Regions from separate parts of the Homo sapiens genome. Here region 1 is linked to region 2. Evidence: fine-mapped expression QTL. A gene starts in region 2. The other region holds a variant in brackets. All regions are shown on one strand. Distances are between the middles of the regions.

What was found.
Region 1: its variant is fine-mapped to the expression of TRPC7 in testis (GTEx, PIP 0.90).

What each region holds. Positions count from the first base shown.
Region 1 is chr5:136,245,248-136,258,100 of GRCh38, reverse strand. It overlaps TRPC7 (transient receptor potential cation channel subfamily C member 7), which reads left to right. Exons shown (of 12, transcript NM_020389.3): 6 at 6,219-6,452; 7 at 10,366-10,630. The region is part of intron 1 of TRPC7-AS2 (TRPC7 antisense RNA 2); the gene reads right to left. Among named protein-coding and RNA genes, the nearest start is that of TRPC7-AS2, 25 kb to the right of the region's middle. RefSeq lists a silencer at 6,514-6,714 and an enhancer at 6,397-6,897. The variant C/G (reference allele first, on the strand shown) is at 6,798.
Region 2 is chr5:136,360,259-136,373,111 of GRCh38, reverse strand. TRPC7 (transient receptor potential cation channel subfamily C member 7) reads left to right here and starts at 7,567. Exons shown (of 12, transcript NM_020389.3): 1 at 7,567-7,859. The coding sequence starts at 7,858.

The sequences.
Region 1 (12,853 bases), 120 kb after region 2:
TGCATTTCAGATTCATAGAGCTTTTAGTACTTGAAGTTACCTCCAAACTCCAAATTCATTCATTTCAAAATATAGAATCTAAGACCCACAGCAAATCAAGGGACTTAGCCACAGTCATACTGCTAATAGGTAGCCAAGCTAGAACTTGAACCCAGGGCTTCCTGAATTAAAGCCAATCACTCTTAAGTTACAGCCTGTGACTCTCCTAGTGCCATGCTAAAAGCAGTTCCACTCAGATGTTGAGATTTTTAATTTGGGGGTAGAGGAAAGCAACAAACACTATTTTTCTATCCATTAAAAAATTTATTTTTAAAATCCATTTAAAAAATACCGGTTGCACAGTCACAGATGAAAGTGTATTTCAGTGTTAAGAAATTACTTCACTGAATTACCACAAAAATTTTGATACGGTATACTTGAGACATAGCTTTGTTAACAAAAAAGGAGGGGGCTGGTTCTGCCCTACCATTGTAGGGTAAACCTACCTGCAATTTTTTTTAATATTTCCTATTGTGGGGATTCCAATTTGATACAAATATGCAGATCTTCATTAAATAAAGCCATGATTCTTCTCCAAACAGCTGCTCTCAAATTACTTTTCTCCTTAGGAAAACATTTCAGGCCGGAAGTGGTGGCTCATGCCTGCAATCCCAGCACTTTGGGAGGCCGAGGTGGGAGGATCACGAGGTCAGGAGTTTGAGACCAGCCTGGCCAATATGGTGAAACCTCGTCTCTACTAAAAATACAAAAATTAGCCAGGTGTGGTGGCGTGTGCCTGTAGTCCCAGCTACTCGGGACGCTGAGGCAGAAGAATCGCTTGAACCCAGGAGGTGGGGGTTGCAGTGAGCTGAGATCGCACCACTGCACTCCAGCCTGGGCGACAGAGTGAGACTCCATCGCAAAAAAAAAAAAAAAGAAAGAAAAACATTTTAAATCCTTTTATTTCATGGGCCATTTTCAACAGAAAGGGAAATTTTCTGATTAAAATAGTCCCTGGGCATAGTCCCAGACAAGTAAAACTGATCAGCTCATCACTCGAATGTGCCCACATGTGGGCCTGTGAGCAAGTCAGCCAGGCTCTGACCAGGGAAGAGCCCTCATTACTGTCTACTCCCAGCATCATCTATGACACCAGGCTTTTTCAGCATCTGGACCCCCAAAGGCGATTGTTATCATGTAGGCATCTGTGAGTGTGCTTGGGTTAATGTCTGGGAAAAAGAAAGGAAGAAACACAAGCAAATGGTTGGGTGGAACTGCTGGAGGACTGTTAGGTGGGCCTGCTTTGCTAGAGTACAGGGTGTATAAAAACTGTGGAATATCATAGGAATGACAGCCTAGCTTTGGAGTCTAGACTTTATCTTGGTATTATGAGAAATACACCACAGGTATCTGAAGACAGAAGTGACCATGATATGACCCAAACTTTATGAGGTCAGAGAATAGAGTTGAAGACTAAAAGAGCAAGATGGATCTGACATCCACTAGAGGAGGATCTGCAGAACTGCAGTGATCCTTGGTGACAGCCAGAAGAGTCAGGGGTGCAAGAGTGGGAATACTGGGTAAGGATATGACACAGTGAGGGTGGGAGGGATGGGGAGGCCAGCTTGAGGGATGTAATATTGGCACTGGAAAGACATCCACTAACCCACTAACAGTAGTCTCTCTCTATGGGGGGAATTCAGCTTTGAAGTTCTTAAGGAAAATTAGGAAGATATTCATCTGTGAGACATATGCAAGGAAATGAAGGACAAAGTTTCAGGGCTAGATGCACTAACTTGAGGTCAGAGGGAAGAATGGGAACGGCCAAAAACCTGGAAAGCTGCAGCCCTTAAGGAGTGGGCAGAGTTAGAAAAGCAGCAAAGAAAACTGAGGAGGAGCAATGGGAGGGGCAGGAGGTACCAAAGAAAGCAGGCCATCATGTCTGATGAACAGGGCCGAGGGACTGCCAAAAGAGGCTATCGGTGTTAGCCTCTAGGGAGTGTGTGGTCACTGAGCTGGAATTGTTTCACTCACTGACCAGCTGGTGATTCTTTTACCACGTGAATCCCTCTAAATATACAGGTTAAGTGTAGCATTGTTCCACAACAAAGCTCTCCCAGGTCTGAGTAGTCGTAAGACTCTTTGATGACATAAAATGTTCAAGAGTCTTTTCTAACTGATTTGAGCCCAATTTTATTTCCTGGAGAGACAGAAGAGTATAGCAGTCAAGAACATGAACTCTAGGGGCAGACCTTCTGGGTTCAAATTCCAGATCTCCTGCTTCCTAGCAGGGCACATTACAACCATCTGAGCCACTGTCTCATTAGCTGTAAAAATAGGATAATAACAGAACGTACTTTATAGGATTGTTGCAAGGATTTAAGATAATACATATACACATATGGCAGTGCCTAGCACATAGTAGGTGCTCAAATTGAAACTGAATAGTTACATTTTAATACAGGCATATCTCAAGGATATTGCAAGTTCAGTTTCAGACCACTACAACAAAACAAGTATCCCAACAAAGAAAGTCCCAGGAAATTTTTGGTTTCCCAGTGCAGAGAAAAGTTGCATTTACACTATACTGTGGTCTATTAAACGTGCAACAGCATCATGTCTAAAAAAAGTGAGAACCATAATTTTAAAATTACTCTATTGCTAGAAAATGCTAACAATCATCTGAGCCTTCAACAAGGCATAATCTTTTTGCTGGTGGAGGGTCTTGGCTCAATGTTGATGGCCACTGACTGATCAGAATGGTAGTTGTTGAAGGTTAAAGTGGCCGTGGCAATTTCTTAAGACAATAAAGTTTACTGCATCAATTAACTTTTCCTTTCACTAAAGATCTCTCTGTAGCATGCAATGCAGTTTCATAGCATTTGACCCAAAGTAGAACTTCTTTCAAAATTAAACTCAATACCCTCAAGCCTTGCTGCTGCTTTGTCAACTAAGTTTACAGAATATTTTAAATCCTTTGTCATCATTTTAACAATGTTCACGGCATCTTCACCAGTAGACTCTGAAGAAACTATTTTCTTTGCTCATCCATAAGAAACAATTCCTCATCCATTGAAGTTTTATCATGAAATTGCAGCAATTTAGTCACATCTTAGGCCCTACTTCTAATTCTAGTTCTCTTATTTCCATCACATCTGCAGTAACTTCCTCTACTAAAGTCTTGAACCCCTCAAAGTTATCCGTGAAGGTTTGAATCAACTTCTTCCATTTAATGTTGATATTCTGACCTCCTACCATGATTCTCTAATGTTCTGAATGGCATCTAAAACGATAAATCCTTTCCAGTAGGTTTCAATTTACTTTGCCCAGATCCATCAGAAGAATAATCATATATGGCAGCTATGGCCTTATGATACGTATTTTTTAAAATAATAAGACTTGAAAGTCAAAATTACTCCTTGATCCACAGGCTGCAAAATGGATACTATGTTAACAGGCATGAGAACAATGCTAATCTCCTGTATATCTCGATCAGAGCTCTTAAGTGACCACATGCATTGTCCATGAGCAGTAATATTGTGAAAGAAATATATTTTTTCTGAGCAGTAAGTCTCAACAGTGGGCTTAAAATATTCAGTATACCATGCTGTAAACAGATACGCTGTCATCCAGGCTTTTTTGTTTCACTTATAGAGCACAGGAAGAGTCAATTTAGCATAATTCTTAAGGGCCCTAGGTTTGGAATGGTACATGAACACTGGCTTCAACTTAAAGTCACCAGCCGCAGTAGTCCCTAACAAGAGAGTCAGCCTGCCCTACACAGCTTTGAAACCAGGCACTGATGTCTACTCTATAGCTCTGAAAGTTCTAAATGGCATCTTCTTTCAAGATAAAGCTGTTTAATCTACATCAAAAATCCGTGGTTTACTGTAGCCACTGTTATCAATTATCTTAGCTAGATCTTCTGATAACTTGTTGCAGCTTCTGCATCAGCACTTGGTGCTTCACCTTGTACTTTTATGTTATGGAGATGGCTTCTTTCCTCAAACCTTATGAACGAACCTCTGCTAGCTTCAAACTTTTCTTTGGCAGCTTCCTCACCTCTCTCAGACTTCATAGAATTAAAGAGAGTGAGGGTCTTCCTCTGGTTTGGGCACTGGCTTAAGGGAATGCCATAGCTGGTTTAATCAATCACTCATGAGTTCACTGGAGTAGTACTTTTAATTTCCTTCAGTAACTTGTTCTTTGCATTCAGAACTTAGATGTCTGGCACAAAAGGCCTAGCTTTTGGCCTATCTCAGCTTTTGATACACATTCCTCACTAACCTTAATCATTTGTAGCTTTTGATTTAAAGTGAGAAATGCAATGCAACTCTTCCTTTCACTTAAAAGCTTAGAAACCATTGTAGAACTATTAATTGGCCTAATATCAATATTGTTGAAATACTGGGAATAGGAGGCCCGAGGGGAGGGAAAGACAGGGAAACAGCAGGTCAGTGGAGCAGTCAGAACACACAAAACATTTATTGATTAAGTTTGCCATCTTATATGGGAGTGGTTCATGATACCCCCAATCAGTTACAATAGTAACATCAAAGATCACAAAGACCACTGGTCACAGACCAACCATAATGAATATAATAATGAAAAGGTTTGAAATATTGTGAGAATTACCAAAATATGACATAGAGACCAAAAGTGAGCACGTTATTGGGAAAATGGTATCAATAGACTTTCCCAACACAAGGTTGCCACAAACCTTTAATTTGAAAAAAACACAGTCTCTGTGAAGCACAATAAAGCAAAGTGCAATAAAACAAGGTATGCCGGTAATTTAAAATAATTTAAATAGTAATAATTTAGTAATCAGTAAATGTGAAGGTATAGAATAGCATTATTCAATAGAAATACAGGGCAAGCAACAACCATGAGCTATATAATTTTAAATGTTCTAAAAGCCATATTATAAAGACAAATAGGTGAAATTAACAACATACTTAACCTATCATATCCAAAATATTAATCACTGCAACATGTAACTGATGCAAAAAATTATTAATGAGATACTTTACATTCTTTTTTCATAGTAAGTGTTTGAAATCTGGTGTGTACCTTACATTTACAGCACATCTCAAACTAGACACATTTCAAGTGCTCAGTATCCACATATGATTGGTGGCTATGGTATTGGACAGTACAGGTCTAGAAGGATACTCATCAACTATTAGCTCAGGCTACCTCACAGGGATGGCTTAGAGCAGCGGTCCCCAACCCCTGGGCCGCCAACTGGTACCAGTCTGTGGCCTGTTAGGAATCGAGCTGAACAGCAGGAGGTAAGCGGTGGGCAAGCCAGCATTACTTCCTGAGCTCCAGCTCCTGTCAGATCAGCAGCGGCATTAGATTCTCATAGGAGCCTAAACCCTATTGTAAATTATGCATGTGAGGGATCTAGGTTGCCATCCTATGAGAATCTCATGGCTGATGATCTGAGGTGGAACAGTTTCATCTGGAAACTATCCCACCCTCCACCCCCACTCCAACCCCACCCTGTGTTAAATTGTCTTCCATGAAACTGGTCCCTGGTGCCAAAAGGGCTGCTGGCTTAGAGGAAGGCTGGGGAAACTAGTAACATTTTGTTTATATACTTCTATATTGTTTAGTATGTAACAATGAGGACATATATCTTTAAAATCCAATAAGTTATGAAAGAGTAAGAAAAAATCTAATAACCCTAAATTAATGCTCATGACACAGAAATACAGAAGCATTCTAATCTGGGATTTAAAAACAAAACAAAACAAAACAAAAAACTGGGTTCTATGTCCAAAAAAAACCATAGTTCTAGGTTCTTGGGGCATTTCTGTAGAATTTGGGGCATGGAGTGGGGGGACCTTCAGAAAGCCCTTTACAATTCCTGGACCTCAGTTTCCCTATATTTAATTTAGGACTAATTGATTCTTTAAGTTCTTAAAGTTCTTAAAGTGTATAAATGTCAGCAACTGTATTTCTCCTATATTCCCTCCAAGAATCTATCAACGAATGAAAACTCTCTCCTCACTTGCAGAGACAGTGTGTTCGTAAGCACAAGGCCAAGTCTCTGAGTCTCCTGGGTCTAAATCTGCCTTTGAAAACACGTTTCTGTCTGCCTCTGGCTATCGACGGTCCCAGCTCCAAAGAGCTGATATTTACATTTGTACTCTGGTTCCCTCCATGACCTCATGCGGTCACAAATGCCAAGAGAAACGAAAAGTGAGCCTGGCCTTCTCCTTCTCCCACAGGAATGATTTGGTCCGAATGCAAGGAAATCTGGGAGGAGGGGCCACGGGAGTACGTGCTGCACTTGTGGAACCTGCTAGATTTCGGGATGCTGTCCATCTTCGTGGCCTCCTTCACAGCACGCTTCATGGCCTTCCTGAAGGCCACGGAGGCACAGCTGTACGTGGACCAGCACGTGCAGGACGACACGCTGCACAATGTCTCGCTTCCGCCGGAAGTGGCATACTTCACCTACGGTGAGTCGGAGAGTGCTTCCCCTACTCCATTTTGGCGCTTCCGGGACGTGGGCCTGGTGCTTCACTGTGGCTGGTGAACTTGTAACGCTATTTGTAATCAAGTGGCCCATGATTTGTAACACAGCCGACTTTGGCAGTTCCACTGTCAGTGCAGAGCATCCTTTCCACCTCAAAAAAACCCTTGGTCCTGGAAGTGTAGCCAGCAGAATAGAACGTGGAATTAGTGACTTTGAGAAATGAATCTTTTTGTGTTAAGGGTGAATTTGTTTCTGAAAGGCCCTTGGGAACATTTCTGTAGTTTGTTTGTTTTTAAGAAACGTCTTGTTTCTGATGTGCATCCAGGAG[C/G]GCTAAAGGGATATGTATATGCGGAAGAATTTTCCTTCTATATTGGATCCCTGTGTTTTGTGCAAAAATAAATCCTGCTTTCCTAGTTATTGCTTGGTGGCAAGATACATTCTTAGAAGATACCTTAATTACCTTAATTCTTGCAAAATGCAAAGGCTTACAGTTTGATGTAGTAGATTGAGACTTTAGGAATACTAATAATAGTTATAACATATGTTTATTGAGAACCTACTATGTGCCAGGAATTGTGTAGACATTTTATACACACAATTCTAATTCTTGCAAATAGCCCGGCAAAAAAGGGTCCTTCTTTTGTCCCTATTTTAAACATGAAGAATCAGGTTTTTATAGCAGGGCTTATAATGTTTCCAGAAAATACAGGATTGCCTTGTATAGCAGGGAATCCTGGCCTGACATGATTTGAAAATCATGCTGAATAGCATAGTGGTTATGTCCCCAAGCTTTGGAGTAGAAGAGACCTGGATTCAAATCCTAGTTCGGTAGTTTACTGTGAGATCTTGTTTACTTAACTTTTCTGAGCTCTTTTTTCTCATATGTAAAACAGAGATAATAATACCTACATCAAAAAGTTTGTTTTGAGGGCTGAATAAAATAGTGTATGTGAAGCGCTTTGCACTCTGCTGTGAAAATAGTAAATGCTCACTTAATGGTAGCAGCTATTATCTGCTTACTTATTTTAAAATAAGTTATGTCTTACTACTACCTTTTGGGTCATTTTCTTGTTCAAACACTGTAATTTCTGTACTGAAACAGAAAGATGTTGAAAGTTGAAGGAACAGTAGATACTTGTTAACAGTAAAAAGCAGCTGGACACTTAGTAGGCAATTGCTAATGGTAGCTACAACATCTTGAAGGGATTGAGTGTTGAATGTCCCTGTTACATGAAGCCAGATGGCTCCGGGACCACAGAATCTTTATGGTAAGATACAACAATGATTCTGTGGTCAGGTACAACAATGATCTGCAGAGGGTTGTTCGCTTAACGCAAAAGTTGAGTAACTGCCCGTTTTCAGTGTAGATTATGTTACATGTAAATGTGGTAGGGAAATCTCCATTGAGAAATGGAGAGTCTTGTAGTATTACAAGTCATCCACCCACCCACCCTCTGCCATTTTGGGGTTTGGCAAATTCAGACTTTCTTAAAGCAAAATAGCTTGGATATTATCCTCTGTCTTGTTAGGGTTCATCAAGGAAGGAAGAGAGAATATTGATGCTGCATTATGTACTTTTCTTAATGCCAGGATTCAGGCTGCAGTATTGTCCACTTCTGACTTCTGTTGCTTTATGGGTTGTATTAAGGTCTCACCCAACCCAAAGCATAGTACGTTATTGCTCTTGTATTTGCGGTTCACGCTGTGCCCTTGGAAATCCTTTGGATTTCTGGCTTAACTTGTGCTCCAGTTACAGGGCAGGAGAGCCCTCTTGTGGCCAGCTGGACGGTGGCTCCTTCCAACCTCTACAGCACCAAATGCGCAGATAACAATTTTTCAGGTTGTGATAGGGCAATTTTTCTCTTGGAAATAGCTCTAAGGAGAAAACCCCTTTGTCCAAATCATCACAGTGCTGTTCATTCTACACTCATCACAACTCTTTACAAGTCAGTTGAAATATAATATTTTTCAATATAAGTCCTGACCTAGTCACCAGGATCTGACAACAGCTAAATCTATCTGAGTAGATTATAAGAGTGTCTTGTTATTGTGACTGAGGTTTAAGATGGTGAGCTAGAGGCCGCAGAAAAAAAGAATTCCTTTTTGCCTTCTGTTTAACGGGAGAAGTTATGTCTTATTTTATCTTATCCAAATATTTATCCATAGAAGATGACAGATATATTGGAAAACATGTAATTTATTCTGCTTACTAGTCTTTCATGGTTTTTTGAGGTATGACCTTGATGAGAACATAGAATCTGTAATGTTATTATATTTCCAAATGCAATTTAGAATCACTCCATGAAACTTTGTGGCCTGGCTTCCTTTACTAAAGGTTTCTTACTGCTCTCTATTATTATAATTATTTAACAGAGTCTAGTTTTGAAAATAAAGAATAAAAGCCTTCCTCTTCAATCTCCCTTGGAATGCCACGAATTGCTATGTAATATCCTTGCTATCTGCATTTACCGGTCTCTGAAAAGGACCCCATACCCTAAATCCAATCTTAAAAATGGCAATAATGATATCTACTCTACAGGGCTGTTGTGAAAATTACAGCTAATGTAAGTGTAAGTGCTAATTTAGGTTTCTCAATGCTTCTCAATTAATATTTCACTCAGCATTTCTCAATAGGGACACTATTAGCTTTTCCAGCAGGGCAGTTTTCATTGTACAGATCTGTCTGGAGCATTGCAGGACATTAGCATCCCAGTAGTACTCCTATTCAGTCACTTTGACAACCAGAGACACCGCCACACATCCTCCATGAGAGAAGTGCTGCCCTCACTTGAGAATCACTGACATGTAATAGACAGCTGATTCGTGATAGGTGCTGCTCCTTGTACCATTAGAACTGCAATAGGAACACTTTGCAGGTTTGCTCTGCAGCAGAAATACCCATAGGAGAGCTCAGGCCCTTGTGGTCACAGTGACCACAAGCAGAGCCTTCCCAGCTCAGGATCAGTCCTAGGACCCTTGCCTACCTGGAACAGGGCTGTCGTGGCAAACCTGCCTGACTGGTCACCACTTTGGGGCCTTAGCTTAATCAAGGAGCAATATCCCAGCACACAGTACCTGAGGAACAAAACCCAAGAGTATTTTTTCAGGCAAGATCCTTTAGATTCCTGGTCCCCATGTGAGCTTATTTGTTCTGACCTGTGTCTGGTCTAAACTTGTGGTTAAAAGTCTATTCAGTCATTTGACAAACACTTATCTGTACCTGCTGTGTGCCAGACCCTGTGCTGAGCACTTTACATGTATGATTTCATTTCATCCTCTCCACAGTCCTGTGAAATGGATATTATCCATAATTTAGAGAGGAGGAAAATAAAGCTCAAAAGGTTAGTTAGTTGTCTCTCAGAGTCATGTGGCCAGTAGGTGGATGGGCCACATTCAGCCTCAGGGATGTCTGACTCCCAAGTCCATGCTCTTGCCCATCTTATTCCTCGCGCTGCCTCCCCAGTGAGTGGGACAGCTCCTGAGCATGGAGCTAAACACTGGTGAGGGAGACAGAATAGCAAGTGGCCTGGTGAGTGCCAAGACATGGAGGGTGTACAGGATACAATGAGAGCACAGACGGAAACTGGGAACCTGCCCAGCCCGTGGTGGGGGTAAGGGGGATCACAGAAGGCTTCCTGAAAGAGGTGATGCCTGAGCAGAGTCTTAGAGGAGGATTAGGAATGAATCATACTTCGAAGTGAGAGAAGAGTGTTCCAGGCAGATGGTCCAGCACATTCCAAGAGGGAGGGTGGCAACTTCTGGATATTGGGATTAATTTAAGGACAAGGACAAGAATGGCAAATGATGCAGTTGGAGACCTCTAAAGATGCCTAACTGGTTTCTCTTCTAGAATAGATCCTGTGGCCTCGTGAGTAACCCAGATTGTTTTCTTTTAGCCAGGGACAAGTGGTGGCCTTCAGACCCTCAGATCATATCGGAAGGGCTCTACGCGATAGCCGTCGTGCTGAGCTTCTCTCGCATTGCATACATTCTGCCAGCCAACGAGAGTTTTGGGCCCCTGCAGATCTCGCTAGGGAGAACTGTGAAAGATATCTTCAAGTTCATGGTCATTTTCATCATGGTATTTGTGGCCTTCATGATTGGGATGTTCAACCTGTACTCTTACTACCGAGGTGCCAAATACAACCCAGCGTTTACAACGTGAGTATCTGAGAGCTTTCCCCTGAGGTTCTCCCTGGGCTTCCTGGGAATCCTTGGGAGTCTCCTGAAGGTGGCTTCTTGCAGAGACTGCTGTTTCCTTGCTATCTCTCAAGGTTAAAGGCAACTTTATTCAAGGGTGGTTTAGAGTTCAGGTTCTGGAGTTGAACAGATGAGTTGAGTTAAATCCTCACTTTGCCACTTACATTTCGTGTGACCAGAGCATGTTCCCATTTAGAAAAAAAAAAATCACATGTAGGAATGCTACGTTTTCTAGGATTTGACATTCTCAGCAATCAGGAATTATTTCATAAATGGAAATTTCATAAATGGAAAGACCACTACTAAAAACAGAATGCCATTAATATAATGTTGTCTTTTGTTTCCAAAGTTGATAGACTAGAGTGATGTGAAAATAATAATAAAAGCGAGATATTTTGTGGTGGTAAACTTTGGGGGTAAAGTTAGGACTGCAATCCATGAGTTATCTCAGGGTAAACAATGCAGCAGCAAGCATGCTGGCGAGTATTCTTGGGGCCAAGGGGAAATGGGTTAACATCTCTGATACTTCATTTTCTTGTTTTTAAAATGGTGATAATAATAGTACCTTCTTCATAGAGATTGTGCAAGGATTCAGTGAGATGATGTAACTCACGTAGTAAACTCAATATGTGGTAAAAAAAATTATTCTTACTGTTATTATTGTCTTAGCCTGTGTTGCCTAGAAAACAGAACTCTGGGTAAAAGTTGCATGCTAACACTTTATTAGAGTGAGGGAGTTGCAATCTAAGGGAAATAAAACTGAAGGAAAAAGGAAAGTGAAGAATGGGAAGAGGGGAAGCAAGTACAAAGTGCTGCTGCATGAGAGGTGTGTGAAGTGAAGATGGGGAAAGCAAATCCAGGCAGCTCCCTGGCCACTGCCCACCAGAATACACAGCATGGGCATGATGGACCTCTCCAGGGGGACTATCTGGAAAGACCACATCTCAGAATAGCCCATCAGGCTGAGAATAGAGAATTTATCATCCAGATCAGTCCCATCTGCTGTCTCTCATTAGTCACTCCATAGGACGTTAACTCACCTACACTTCCAGGGAAGCCCTGGGGAAGCCATATCCACACAGCATGGGAGGCAGGTCTGCGAGTGGTTGCAGGTCACTGCTCTCCATGCCTGGCTGGGCAAGCCAGGTCTTGTGTGTGGACACCCAGCAAGTCCTGCAGCATCATGTGCCTCTGCAGCAGGAAGGAAAGCCCATGTGAGAGAGGCAGGAGGCATGCAGCCTGAGCATGAGGCAAGACACTGAAATTGGGGTCCAGAAGTAGCTGCTAGGGGTGCTCCAGAAAGCAGGCAGAGTAACACAATGGCATGCACATCCCCCACCGTGGAAGTGGTGATGGAGCTCTCTAAGCCTGTGTCCACAAAGATCCAAAGCTCCTCCCCTGGGGATGGGCACGGGGCAGGATGCCAGATAGTCTCCTGGAGGGCCAGCCATCGGTAGCACCGAGAAGGGTCTAGTGGAAGAGTGTGGAAGACCTGAATATACTTCCTGACACAGGCATATACTGGCCGGTGAACTTAAGTCATTTGATTTATCTGAGCCTCTGTGTCCTCGTCTATAAAATGAAAATAAGGTTTCCCACCTTATTCACAAATACCTTTATGGATAAATGAGGATGTTTACATAAAGTGCCTGAAACACAGAAGTGTTTCCAGTCCATGTCCTGCCCCAGACCCACTCAGTTCCAGAACTTCTCCTTGCCTTCACCAAGCTCTTGGCCAAAGTCTTGAAAGGAGGATAGTCAGGTTTTCAGCCTTGTGGAATCCCAGCACAGCAGCCAGGATCAATGGGGCTAAGCACTTCCTGACACTTGTCCCCAGGAAGCCCTGAGTGGCCTAGAATGTCAGTTTTCCAGCTAGTAGAAATGGCTCTGATCCCTGCCCCTCAGACTCCCTGAGCAATTTCCAGGTTGCAGCAGGGCCTCATCTTACTCTTCTGGAGAAATCACCCATTAAGGTAAGATACTTGTCTCTGAGAACCAAGTACAATGAATTCTGTGCCACTTAGCTCAGAATTATGGACTGCGCTGCCCCACCCAGCTGAAACTACCTAAAAGAGTGGGACTCTGGTGCTGCTGAACCACAGAAGCTGTTACTCCCTGAAGCAAAGTAGTTTGTGTGTCAAGAGAATAGGTGCCAGGCCCAGTGCTGAGAAATGCACCTGAGAG
Region 2 (12,853 bases):
CTGTGCTCCAGAACCTCAAGGCCCACATGTGATTCTCGCACTAGTACTTGATGAAACTATGACTGACATCTTTGCCTACCACTGACAATCCTTTGGGGAGTGACTGAAGAAAGTATTACCATGTAAAGAACCTAGGGTTCTTTCTCCTAGGAATTGGTCTATCTCTTCAATCCGTTCCAGGTTTGAAAACAAGATCAGATCCACAAACTGGCAAGGAATGATGACTTTTCTAATAGACTATATTTTTAGAGCAATTTTGGGGTCACAGTGAAGTTTAACAGAAAATACAGAGAGCTCCCACATACCCCCAATCCCCACACATATAGTCTCCTCCTGTTATAAACACCACACACTGGAGCGGTACATTTGTTACAATCACTGAATCTACACTGAAAAATCATTACCACCCAAAGTCCATAGTTTACATTAGAGTTTATATTAAGTTGTTGTACACTCTACAGGTTTTGACAAATGTGTAATGCTGTGTATCCATTCTTTTTTTTTTTTAATTTTCTTTGAGATGGAGTCTCGTTCTGTTGCCCAGGCTGGAGTGCAATGGCATGACCTGGGCTCATTGCAACCTCTGCCTCCCGGGTTCAAGCGATTCTCCTGCCTCAGCCTCCCGAATATCTGGGATTACAGGCACGTGCCACCGTGTGCAGCTAATTTTTGTATTTTTAGTAGAGACTGGGTTTCGCCATGTTGGTCAGGATGGTCTCAATCTCCTGACCTCATGATCTGCCCACCTCAGCTTCCCAAAGTGCTGGGATTAAAGGTGTGAGCCACTGCGCCTGACCTGTATCTACTTTTAATTATAGTATCATATAGAGCAGTTTTACTGCCCTAAAAATCCTCTGTGATGTTCCTATTAATTTCTCCCTTCCCCTAACTGCTAGCAACCACTGATATTTTTACTATCTGCATAGCTCTCCCCTTTCCAGAATGTCATATAGTTGGAATCATACAGTATACAGCCTTTTCAGATTGGCCTTTTCATTTAGTAATACATATTTATGGTGTGGAATTACAACTTTTTATCAGAATGACATCCTCAGCCTGCCAGTCATCCTTTCCTGATTTTTCTACAGGCACAAACTGAATAATATCCTAGTCAGTTGCCTCTTTTTGTCCCTAGGGATGCTATATTCTATTAACCATTTTCATAACTCTGAGAGTCATGTTTCCTTACCCTCCAATCTTGCTCGTCATTACAATAATTGCAACAGTCTGGTTTAGGATGTTCAAGCACCTCCACCTGGCCTCTATTTTTTCAGGGTTCTCTGATGCCCATTGTTACCAGTGAGTAAGTTCTGTAACAGACTATCCCACCATCAACCTTGGCTTAAAGAGAACCATGAATGAAAATTTCAGTGATCCTGGTGGACATTTAGTCAGTGCATTTATGATGCCTTTGGTAAAAAGATGTGTCCTCTGGGCCCCATGAACATGATCACCTCAGGGACCTTCTAGCCAAACGGGATATATTGATTCTAGCATCCTCACATCTATAAACTTTTCATTTCTTTCCTTCATCTTTTGCCATGAAAATTATGTCACTCCAGCTTTGTGTGATGTGAACTATTCCTTTTTTATGTTTCCAGAGACCATTCTAGGAGTAAGTTCACACCATCCCCCAGAACCGTGCCAAGATGTGAAATCCTACAATTGAAGAGAACATTACCAAGTCAATAAACTCTTCACCATCTAATTTGTATTACAGGGCCCCTTGGTCAAGCATCCTCAGAATCCCATTCCAAATATACTCCCCTGGCTTTTTCCAATACATGTTGGCTAGTTCCTATAGCATTTTTGGGAAATTGTCCCTTTCCTGACTTAATCAGGTTTAGAACATCCTCTGCTATATTATGGCTCTATGGATATTAATGTCAACTCAGACCCTGAGTACAACTTAACCTTAGTTACAGGCCTTGTGGGCAGGAAGGAATGTAGTATAGACTCTGGGCAGGCATGTGTACCTCATGGGGGTGAGACCTATATAATGTATTCCACGAGGTGACAGCTGCTAGCTTTTAATATGGATGGATGGACCATGTCTTCAGGCTCAGAGGGTTCAGATGTACAGTTGACCCTTGAACAACACAGATTCTAACTATGTGGGTCCACTTATATGTATTATAGATTTTCTTCAACAAAACATAGCTCAAAAATACAGTATTCAGAGGATGTGAAGCCCACATATATGAAGGGCTGACTTCCTATATGCAGATTCCATGGAGATGACTGCAGGATTTGAGTACGAACAGATTTTGTATATTTGGGGGTCTTAAAACCAATCACTCTAGTGATTGAGGGTCAACTGGGAGACAAAATTTTCTGAGACATCATGTAGATATCTCTATCTCTTTAGAGTTCTGGACTTTCTTAAACATGGTGATAATCTGACATGACAGACCATCCTTAGATGGCCATTTGGTTATCTGTGAAATTCAGTCACTCTGAATATGATTTCTCAGGCTGAGACTTTGACTTTCTATATTCTCCCAACAGAGTTTTTAAGAGCTTCTTTGCAACCAAGATGTCCTCCAGCTTTTACACCTGGAATTCTATTGCCTATTACGCATCTTCAGCTACTCATCTTTCTGCCGAATATCGGTGGCATTTAATGATAGCTATCCAAAGCCATTGTGCTTGTCATTATTATTTCTCTGGTGAGTTTCAAATGCATATTTTCCACTTACCAATGCATTCTCTTCCACAAGCATAACATCCCAATTCACCACAGGTGAAAACTTAAATGGACCATCACCTTGTTTCATGGGCCATCTGTGCTCCATTTATGACCAGTGATAGGGTCAGCGCCAACTACATGGTGGCAATCCAGCTCAAACATCCCATTTTATCACCTAGTTGCTCAATCCATTCCTGATATCAATTAATACAGGTTAGGTTTTCCAGAAGTAGACACTGATATAGAGTTTAAGGTGAAAAATATTCATTAAGGTTCAACATTTTTAAAAGGAAAAGGGAGGAAGCAGTATTGGGGAGAGGAAGAAATCAAGCTATGATAATGTGGGCAATATAGCAGCAAGCCCTGGAAAGAGTATTGCACGTAAGCATGTTCCTGAAATGGTCTGTATTCTCTCACCTTGCTCAGTCACAAAATACAGTCTATCCTGCAAAGGGTGTGGCCCTGGGAAAGGTGGCTCTTTGTACCTGAGGCACACCCTGAAGGATATGGCAGCTGGAGGCTATCCACTGACTGCCATTCCTGCACACTTCTTTCATTGAAGGAGGATTTCCATTCTGACCACACCATCTTAAATCTTTTTTTAAAGGCAGAATACAAATGTCTTAGTCTGTTTTCTGCTGCTGTAATAGAATACCACAGACTAGGTAATCTATAAAGAAAAGAGATTTATTTGGCTAATAATTCTGAAGGCTGTGAAGTCCAAGATCAAGGGCCACATCTGGTGAGGGATTTTTTTACTGTGTCATAACAGGGCAGAAGGCACCACATGCAAAGGATTGTCCCTTGGTGAAAGGCAAAAGAGTAAGCTCAAGAGACAGAGAAGGAAGCTGGACTCCCCCAGTAACCCACTCCCAGCATAAAGGTGTTAATCCATTTATGAAGGTGAAGCTCTCGTAAATGAATCACCTCTTAAAGGTCCCACCTCTTAATACTATTACAATGATAATTAAATTTCAACATGAGTTTTGGAGGAGACATTTAAACAATAGCAATCAATAAATATTTCATATGGGTTTCAGTTTGCTTTTGTAAGAAACCTTTAATAGGTTACAAGCCAATTATAGCTTACATAAATCCTGTAAAAGCATAACCATTGAAATCTGCAGTTATAGCCCAAACTGAAAGATGAATAATTTTTCATAAAACACATAAATAGGAATAGAATTAAATTGGCATCATTCTTATCATCACTTTGAGACATAGTGCTATTTCCAGTCACTCCCTGTTTGTAAATAAAAACACAATTTTTCATTACTTGAGAACAGTCTACAGCACAAAATTTTTCCCCAGATTTTGTGCTCACTCTAAAGAAGATTTACGGTGATGCTGTCATTAATCAAAATGAGAGAGATCTACTTTTTAAGTGGGTTCAGTATAGTGGCTTCTAGCAATTTCAGCCAGAATTTTTCTATGGAAACTGATTTACATTAATTCCTTAAATCTAATGCCTAAGAAGTCTGCTCAATATATTTCTATCTAGGAGAAAGAGCCAGACCTGACTAATAACCACACAAAGTTGCATAGACTTAAGGAACATTCTGAGAGGGGAGAAAAGGGAGAATGAGTCTCCCAAAAGATTCATTTATTTGAAATAAACCTTCATATTCATGGCTTTGGTTTCTAAAACGACCTAGTCATTCAATAGACAATAACAGTGTTTCCCAAAAGTGTGATTTATGAATCATCTGCATCAGAATCACTTTAGGTTCTTAAGGAGATAAAGTGCTTATTTTTCTAGGGAACGAGAAATTTGTATGTTTATATTTTTAACAGGCTAGTTAGGCGATACTGGAGCACACAAAGTCTGAGAACCACAGATCAATAGTATGTTCACTGTTCAGTCACAGGGTGAGTTGTTAAGCAATAGTGAAAGCTGACATAGGCTGAGCTCTATGTGCCAGGCTCTGCTGTAAGCTCTTCATGTGTGTTGTCTCATTTTATCTTCGCTATAATTCTACAAGTGAGAAACTGTTGTTACTTTCATCTCACAGGTGATAAAACTTAGGGACACACTTGGGGAATAGGAAATTTGGAATTAAAACAGAAAATTTTACTAGAAGCTGTACACACTCTTAACCACTAAATTCTACTGTGAGCCTATGTTGGGTTGAGACTGGGAGATGCAAAACTCAAGTCCTTATGCAGGAAATTTAGACATCCTCTAGTCCAAAAGCTGAGCACCTTCTGAACTTTCACTGTTGATAGTGAAGTCCTAATTACTTCTGTGTTTTATATATTGAAAATGATAATTTGATATGGATGCAACATTTTTTCAGATTACAAGTATTTGCCCCATTGAACCAAATATCTGTGTATGATATGCTCTGGAAATGATAAAGTACTCCAATTATAAGGATCCCGAAGATTGGATCCTTTGCAAAATGTCATCTTATCACTTTTGAAGAGCTGTCTGGCCTGACTCTGACTTGTCTTCAATTAATGAATACATCTATAAAACAATTAACTCATTTCTTTTCTCTCTCATACATATATATATGTGTGTGTGTATGAGAGATATAAAATATATATATATATATACATTTGACTGTCATACCATCATTGGCACAACTTTCTGAAATATGGTTTAATTTTTTAATGAGCTTATCAATACTGAAAACAAGGACATTATTCATGTCAGAGTTTTATGAAAATACACTCTTGGCTGTTTATTAAAAACAGAATATAATGAGACTTCAATTCCGTCATTAACTAAAAGCCATAAACCAGTATTCTTTTAAAAGTATTGTATAATTAAGAGTTATCTCATTCTACACTACTTCACTAATCATGATGATGAGGATCCCAATCAAAAGGATATTATCACTTGTCAGAGATAATCTTCTAACTTTGTGGTTGTGTAAGACACTTTTATTGGCTTCACATTTATATTTTGTTCCACTTCATTGCAATACTAAAGAGCTCTTAATTCATTAGCATTTTATTCAAATGCATTAAATCTACTTGTTTCTGATTCTAATAAAAAATAAAATTTCTGTATCCTTCAAGCCTGTAATTTTTTTAAGAAAGCCTTGATATTAGAAAATTTCTTTTTAGAATGGTATTTTATCCAATGAAACATAATTATTAATATTGTAAAACTTGCGTGGAGGCTTATAAGAATAAAATGCATTTGTTGCCAGTCTTTTTGGAGGGTTTTGTTGTTGTTGTTGTTTGTTTGCTTGCTTTTCAAGACAGGATTTCACTCTGTCACCCAGGCTGGAGTGCAGTGGCATGATCTCAGCTCACTGCAACCTCAGCCTCCTGGGTTCAAGTGATCCTTATTCCTCAGCCTCCCAAGTAGCTGGGACTACAGGTTCACACTACCATGCCCACAACTAGAGAACTACCTTAACTTCTATTGAGCAAGCAGAGGAGAAAGAACATTCAAACTGGGTCGAGTATTGTGGCTTATGCCTGTAATCCCACCCCTTTGTGAGGTCGAGGCAGGAGGATAGCTTTAGCCCAGGATTTCGACACCAGCCTAGGCAACATAGTGGGACAAGGTCTCTACTAAAAAATTAAAAATTAGCCAGGTCTGATGGTATGTGCCTGTATTCCCAGCCACTGTGGAGGGTGAGGCAAGAGGATCACTTGAGCCTGGGAGGTCAAGGCTACAGTGATCCGTGATTGTACCACTGTGAGACCCTGTCTCAAATTTTTAAAAAATTAAAACGAACTTTCAAACTTATCATGCACACCTTAAATGCCAGCTCTTTGGAGTTATTTGTACATGATTTTTCAATTAATTATCACCACGACAATTGGTAAAAGGCATTATAAACCCTATTATTACCAACCATTCACATATGAGAAGACTGAGATTCAATAGGTTAAGTGTTATGTCTAAGGTCACACAGTTAATAAGTGAATCAAAATCCCAAGGTCTTTTCCCACATATCATGTTATCTTCAGAGAAAATACTAGTAGCATATTAACAAACCAATGCAATCTCATTTGGATGTAAAACTAGAATGGTCATGTGTACAATACATTATAAGCAACTCCTTAGCCCTAAGTATTGCAAGTGCACACAGCAACAGTTTTACAGAGTGTCAGTTATTAAGCTGTGAGTTGATTTCAGAAAATAACCACTCTGATTTATTGGTAAGTAACCCAGGTAGATTGTAGAAGCAACTGTGGTTTTTCATACACAGGCAATATTTCAGTTAAGACGGTTTCTTTCCAATGATGTCATTAAAGTACCTCAGTGTTTAAGAATCATAGACCATTTGGTTACATAGCAATTGGTGAGCGTGGGAACTGTTGGGGAAATGGTATTTTGGATTGAGAATTTCGTTTCAAAAAATGGAAAGTTGCAAATGAAAGCTAACCCTTTTAGTCTTGTTACTAATGTGAGACTTGTTCTACACCACTGACCTCTTCCTGATCCTAGATAATGCTAAAAGATCATGAACCAAAATAGTAAAGTTGGAAGATACATCACTCACAGAAGACAAAGTGTGGTGTGGTGATGAGACTTACGGAAGAAAACTACTTCTATCGCTCTTTAGGCTTCTCTGGTTTTAGTTTTCTTCTTAACCCCCTCCCTCTGTAAACACACAGACACAACAGGTAGGAAACCAGCTCATTCCTCATTCCTCATTCCTCATTTGTTTAAACCAATGAATATTCTGCCTCAGAAGTCAGAACATGCTGCCTTATATAACGAGGTGTGTGTGTGTGTGTGTGTGTGTGTGTGTGTGTGTGTGTGTGTGATGTACTATTCTGGGGCAGAGGAAAGGGCAGGTAGAAATCCTGAGGAGCTATGGCAGGAAGAAAGAGTTGCTACCTCCCTTTCAAGCTACGTCGGGGAGAGGGGGTGGGGACTATACCAACCCATCACCACGCCGCATGCCACTCTCACACAGATGCTTCTCCGTCATGTTCTCTGGGAAATTTCCCCCCGATTAGGAAAAGGACGGTAACACGGTTCTGCCTCGGAAGGCGAGTTTTTACCACTGCAACACAAAGAACAGAGGAGCGCGCTTTCACATCGTTGCAACTTAACTCACTTGACCAGCTCTATACTTCAGCACCACGGAGAGCGGTACATCCTTGGCTACCACCCATGGGGAGCCAGCTTCTGGCGACTCAACACCGGATTCCGGTCATCTAGAGGAGGAACAAGCCTGCGTATTACACCCTCAATGTAAGCAGCTATGATGGTTCTTTCATATTGATTTTTTTTTCCAGTAGAGGTTGTGTTCTCGCTAAAATATGTAATTGAACTTTCATTTATCAGCCTTCTTCCTCTAGTGCACTGCTTAGATTTTTAGATGGATCTGAGATCTTTCTTATTTGTTGAGTTGGTAGAAGAAATTTTTTTTTTCTTTTATAGAATGTCTAAGTTTTCAAAGCCATTTAGAAACGGACAACTCATGTCGGTAGCCTATTCCTTTTGTGCTAGAGTAATATAGTTTTATTCCTAGATGAGTGTATAGGTGTTGTCTCTTCTTTCCCTTCACTACTGACAGCTTTCTAATGTATTTATGTGGTTGTATTTATCATAATATAAATATAGGGGTGAGAGAAGGGAGAGGGTTATATTCTAATAAGTAGCCACTGTTAAAGAACTACAGGTGGCAAGAAAGAGATTGTCATTTTTCTTTTCTTCTTGTTGAAAATATGGTCTGAGCTATGTATCTCCTTTAGACATCCATTTCAAAATAACAAATATGCTCCTAATGAAAGAGGTGTAATCTAGGCAGAGCTTTGAAACTCTCATAATCTCCCCTTTAAGTTTGAAGTTGTAAATTCATTTACCTATGATTGAGTAGACACAACCAAAATGCTATTGCTATTAATTATAATTTAGAGGCGTAATGGATTCAGGGTAGACTCAGAAAAGGCAATAATGATTGACCCTGTCTGGTGGCACTCAGTGAATTTTTGCCTCAGAATGCCACCTGCTGGTGGGTCTTATTTCTGAAGCACCGAGTACACATCAAATTTATGAATGAATTCACATTAAATCCAGAATATTCATTATGGATGTGATGCAAACCCAATCTCCAAGATCTTTTTAACAATGACATTGATTCAATTATTTAAAAGCTTACCAAACTTCTATGTCACAATTACCCTTTCATAAATATTTATTTCCAAAAACACTTGCTCCTAAACTTAGGTGCATGTAGACTAGATAACTCCTTTAGGCAGTAATTAACCCAGAAAAAAATCAGAACTATGTGGAGCCTCATTGAGGCTAATTGCAGAATGCATGCGGTATCTTGGATGAGAGCTACCAGGAGCTCTTGCTTAGTAAAGGCAATCAACATTTCCCTCCATATAAATATTAAGCATGTTACTTTTTTTCAGTATTGTCATTTCATAATATAAGGGCCTCTCTTTCTTTCTCAGTAGTAGATGTTTATTTCAGACTCTTATCATAGAGGTCAGTGAAATCATCAAAAGGTTACACATATCTATTTTATTTCAAGAAAAATCTTTTTTAAAAATAAAGCTATCAAAACTTGTTTCAGCTCCACCTGGAGCTATACACAATGAGATATAGACATCCAGTTTCATAACTTCCAACTTCCAAATAGGAAAATAAGGATTTTAAAAGTAAAAAGAAAAATAGAAGCACATACAAAGCACTAGTTATATTTGGATAGGTGGTACCTAGGACAGTTTGAAAAAACTGAGGATAACTTCTTCTCTAAATGATGTTACTTGGTAGAAAATAAATTACTAATAGAAACACTTATTAACATTCAGGAACACTAGATAATATTTTTATTCCAAGATGCAATGGAAAAACCATCCCACATTAGTAGAATTATTTGGAAAGTATATCTTAATATAAAACATTTTAATGAGTAAAAGAAGGATACTTTGCTTGTTTCCTGTAGGATTTAACTGGTGAAATGTATGAACTCGTGTATACCTTGGGGTAGTTAGGTATATATCTTTTTTTTCTTTTATTTAAAGTATATATGTTGTACAAGCAAATTATTATCAGTAGCTTAGATGGGAACTTAAATGCCTTAAACCCACAATTAATATATTTGTAATAAGTTAAATAGAGCTAATAATATCCAATTTCACTAGAGCACTTACAAGGCAATGATAAATAGTTTACGTTCACTATCTCACCTCAATTTCAACAGAAAAAGGAAGGTGATACTTAGAAATAAGTTGGATGCCTTGGGAAATATGTAAAAATTTTCAGGAGTAGTGTGAAGAAGTGAGAATGTCTCAATTTTCTGCTCAGTCACCAAGGGACATCATATGCCCTCTGATATTAGCTGCTTCATCTAGCAACTTATGGGCCATAATTTATAGTGGAGCTAATTAGAAACTGATTTTACTTAGGAATTCATACCTTATTTTAAATGTTGCCAGTCATAAGTAGGAAATAACAGTCATAGAATTATATGGCTCCTGCATTTTGTGAGAAGGAAGATGCTGGTAAACACCAACAGCTCCAGTGTACTGATCTTCTTAAATGATCAACCCAGATTCAAATATTTAGGAATGAATTAAGTTGATTGACCAAGCACCATATGCAAGGCATCAGGAGTACAGGGCACCAGGTGCATATGCCATATACACGAGTATTCCCTACCCTCAAGGATCTTGAACTCTAATGGAAAAAGTTATAGCCTAAAGAAACTCAGAAAAACAAAAAACAAAACAAAACAAAAAAACAGAAAGACAAAAAGAAGATGGCTGGCAGTGGCATACTAGCCAAAAGCACAAACTTTCAAAGCAGACAGACTAGATCCTTAATAGTGAGTCCACCACTGACACATTGTGTAGCTTCGGAAAAGTGGTTAATTAATTTGACCATCACTTCATCATCTGTTAAATGGGAATGACAATAGCACCTAAACCATGTAATAGTTTGTGAGAACTTAAAATGATAATGCATGTTCTCAAATGTGTCATGTTCGCTATACATTTCTAATCATTTTTGCTTAATGATTTATGTACTTACCTCCTTTTTTATATGTTTATATTTACAATTCATTCATCATTACATTGCCATTTGTCTTTACAGGCTGGCTTTATTGTGTTGAGTATCTATAATGTTAAATTTCTCTTTATATCTTATTTGAAAAATAAATGAATAAATAAATATAAATGACAATGTACATAAATTACTCAGCATGGTGGCTGGCACATGGTTAATGTGAAACAAATGTTAGTCACTATGATTAAATAGTCATTCAGGAAAATAGCTAACCTTATCAGAAGATAATTTATTTAAAACAGTAATTTATGTAAAGCACTTAGGACAGTGTCTACATGGTAAATGTGTAATATATGTTAAATATAACTATTGTATAGTCATTTAGAAAAATAGCTAAGCTGAGTATATCAATGTACAGTAAAATGTGAGACAATTCTAATAATTGTGTACCTAAGTGCATTGATAGGTAAGATTTTGATCATTATTGTCATGAACATTTGTATAAAGTGTTATGGTATCCAGGGCATTTGGTAGACATTATTTAATCCTCACTGTGCTCCTGAGGAACATGAGGAATGGGCTTTATTACTCCCTTTATTTTGGCAAGAGAACTGTGGTTTAGGAGAAGACTCCAAATGACTATTTCATCACTGTTGCTCTAGACTAATACTCAGAATATGTACTCTTGGGAGAAGATGCACAGATCAAAGCTGAGTTTTCCTGGGTGTTTGATCTGACTCCTAGATTCTGTTTGGTTCTATATCCAGTTGGGGAATATTACAGGCTGAATTGATTTTAAGCTTGGATAATTTCCATAGAGAATTTTGATGCATGTAGCATTTTAGAAAAGAGACAACAAATATCTCTAAAAAAACATTTTGATTAAGTGGCCTTTTCTTCTTCAGTAATTAACCACAATTTCTGTCTCCAAAAGGCTTTATGGCCATGCTCATCTGCAGCTGGACTTAGGGCACAAGATTTATACTTTTCATGGGTCAATGACATCTGGCTTCCTTCAGACTGGCTGATGCATCTGTAAGAGCAGCTTGATAAAAATAACAACTGAAGGATCAAGAGGGAGTTTAATAATCAGTCCTCCTCTCATATATGGTTTTGTTTCCGCTGGAATCCTTCTTCCAAATGACATCAAATGTTAATTGTATGCATTTCTGGAAAATGTAAAACAAAGTGTCTTAATTGGGGTATTTAATCACACATTATCTCAATAATATGTGCAAATAAAAATGTATTTGCATTCAAAGTTCATTTTTAAGAAAAATACTAAAATAAGGGCAATCAAATGCCAATTGCATTTTAGGGAGATTCATTTTGCTTATCATTGGCCCTAAAACTGTGATAAGATCTCCAGAGTTCATCAGGGCAGCACATCTGATTCATGAGTGTAAGCTTTGGCCACCAACTATTGAGAGACATGTGACTTTATCTTTCTGACACAGCATCTTTTGTGGATTCTTTCCAACCCGTGTGATATGTATAGCTAAAACATGAATATCTGTGATATCAAAATTAAATAGCAAGGATATGGTGGCTGAATATATTCACAAGTGCATAAATGTCTAAAAAGTATCATTAGAGGGATATTAGGGTAAGAGGGAGTCAGAGCTAATAAAAAGGCCACAGTGAGGTTAAAAGGCCTCCATCAATATCTGCATCAATTCTCATGGCTTCATAGTCTATTGTGAAGCCCCTCGCATTGGAAGCAATTTCACTGAGTAGCACATGCCATTATCTGCTTATATGCATACATGACTCTAAGGCTCATAAGATTTCATTTTTAATGCTAAATTCTGCTAGGAAAGGAACAGAATTGATGATTTTGTGAGCATCCAAATGTTTTTCAAGGCTGAGGTTTTAAAGGCTGCGAAAGAGTCTTGTTTATTTCTTACTACATCTGGGTGTCTGCTTTCAAGGTCATTCAGAAAAATGCTTGTCAAATGGTGAGGACATTTTAACGTCTGCCAAGTACTAGCTATACACATATTTTTTTTGATAAAACATAATTATTGTAGAAACATCAAGATTTATATGATGCCCTACCCTTGTGCAGAAATTATTTGTCCAAAGTCTTAGGACTTAAGATTTAGTCTTTTCACTTGACCTACCAGAGTTTCTTCACCTAAAAGATGAGAATGCTAATACTTTGCTTTTTATGTTTTGTTTTGTTTTGTTTTGTTTTGTAATGAGTGGAATTAACAAACAATGCT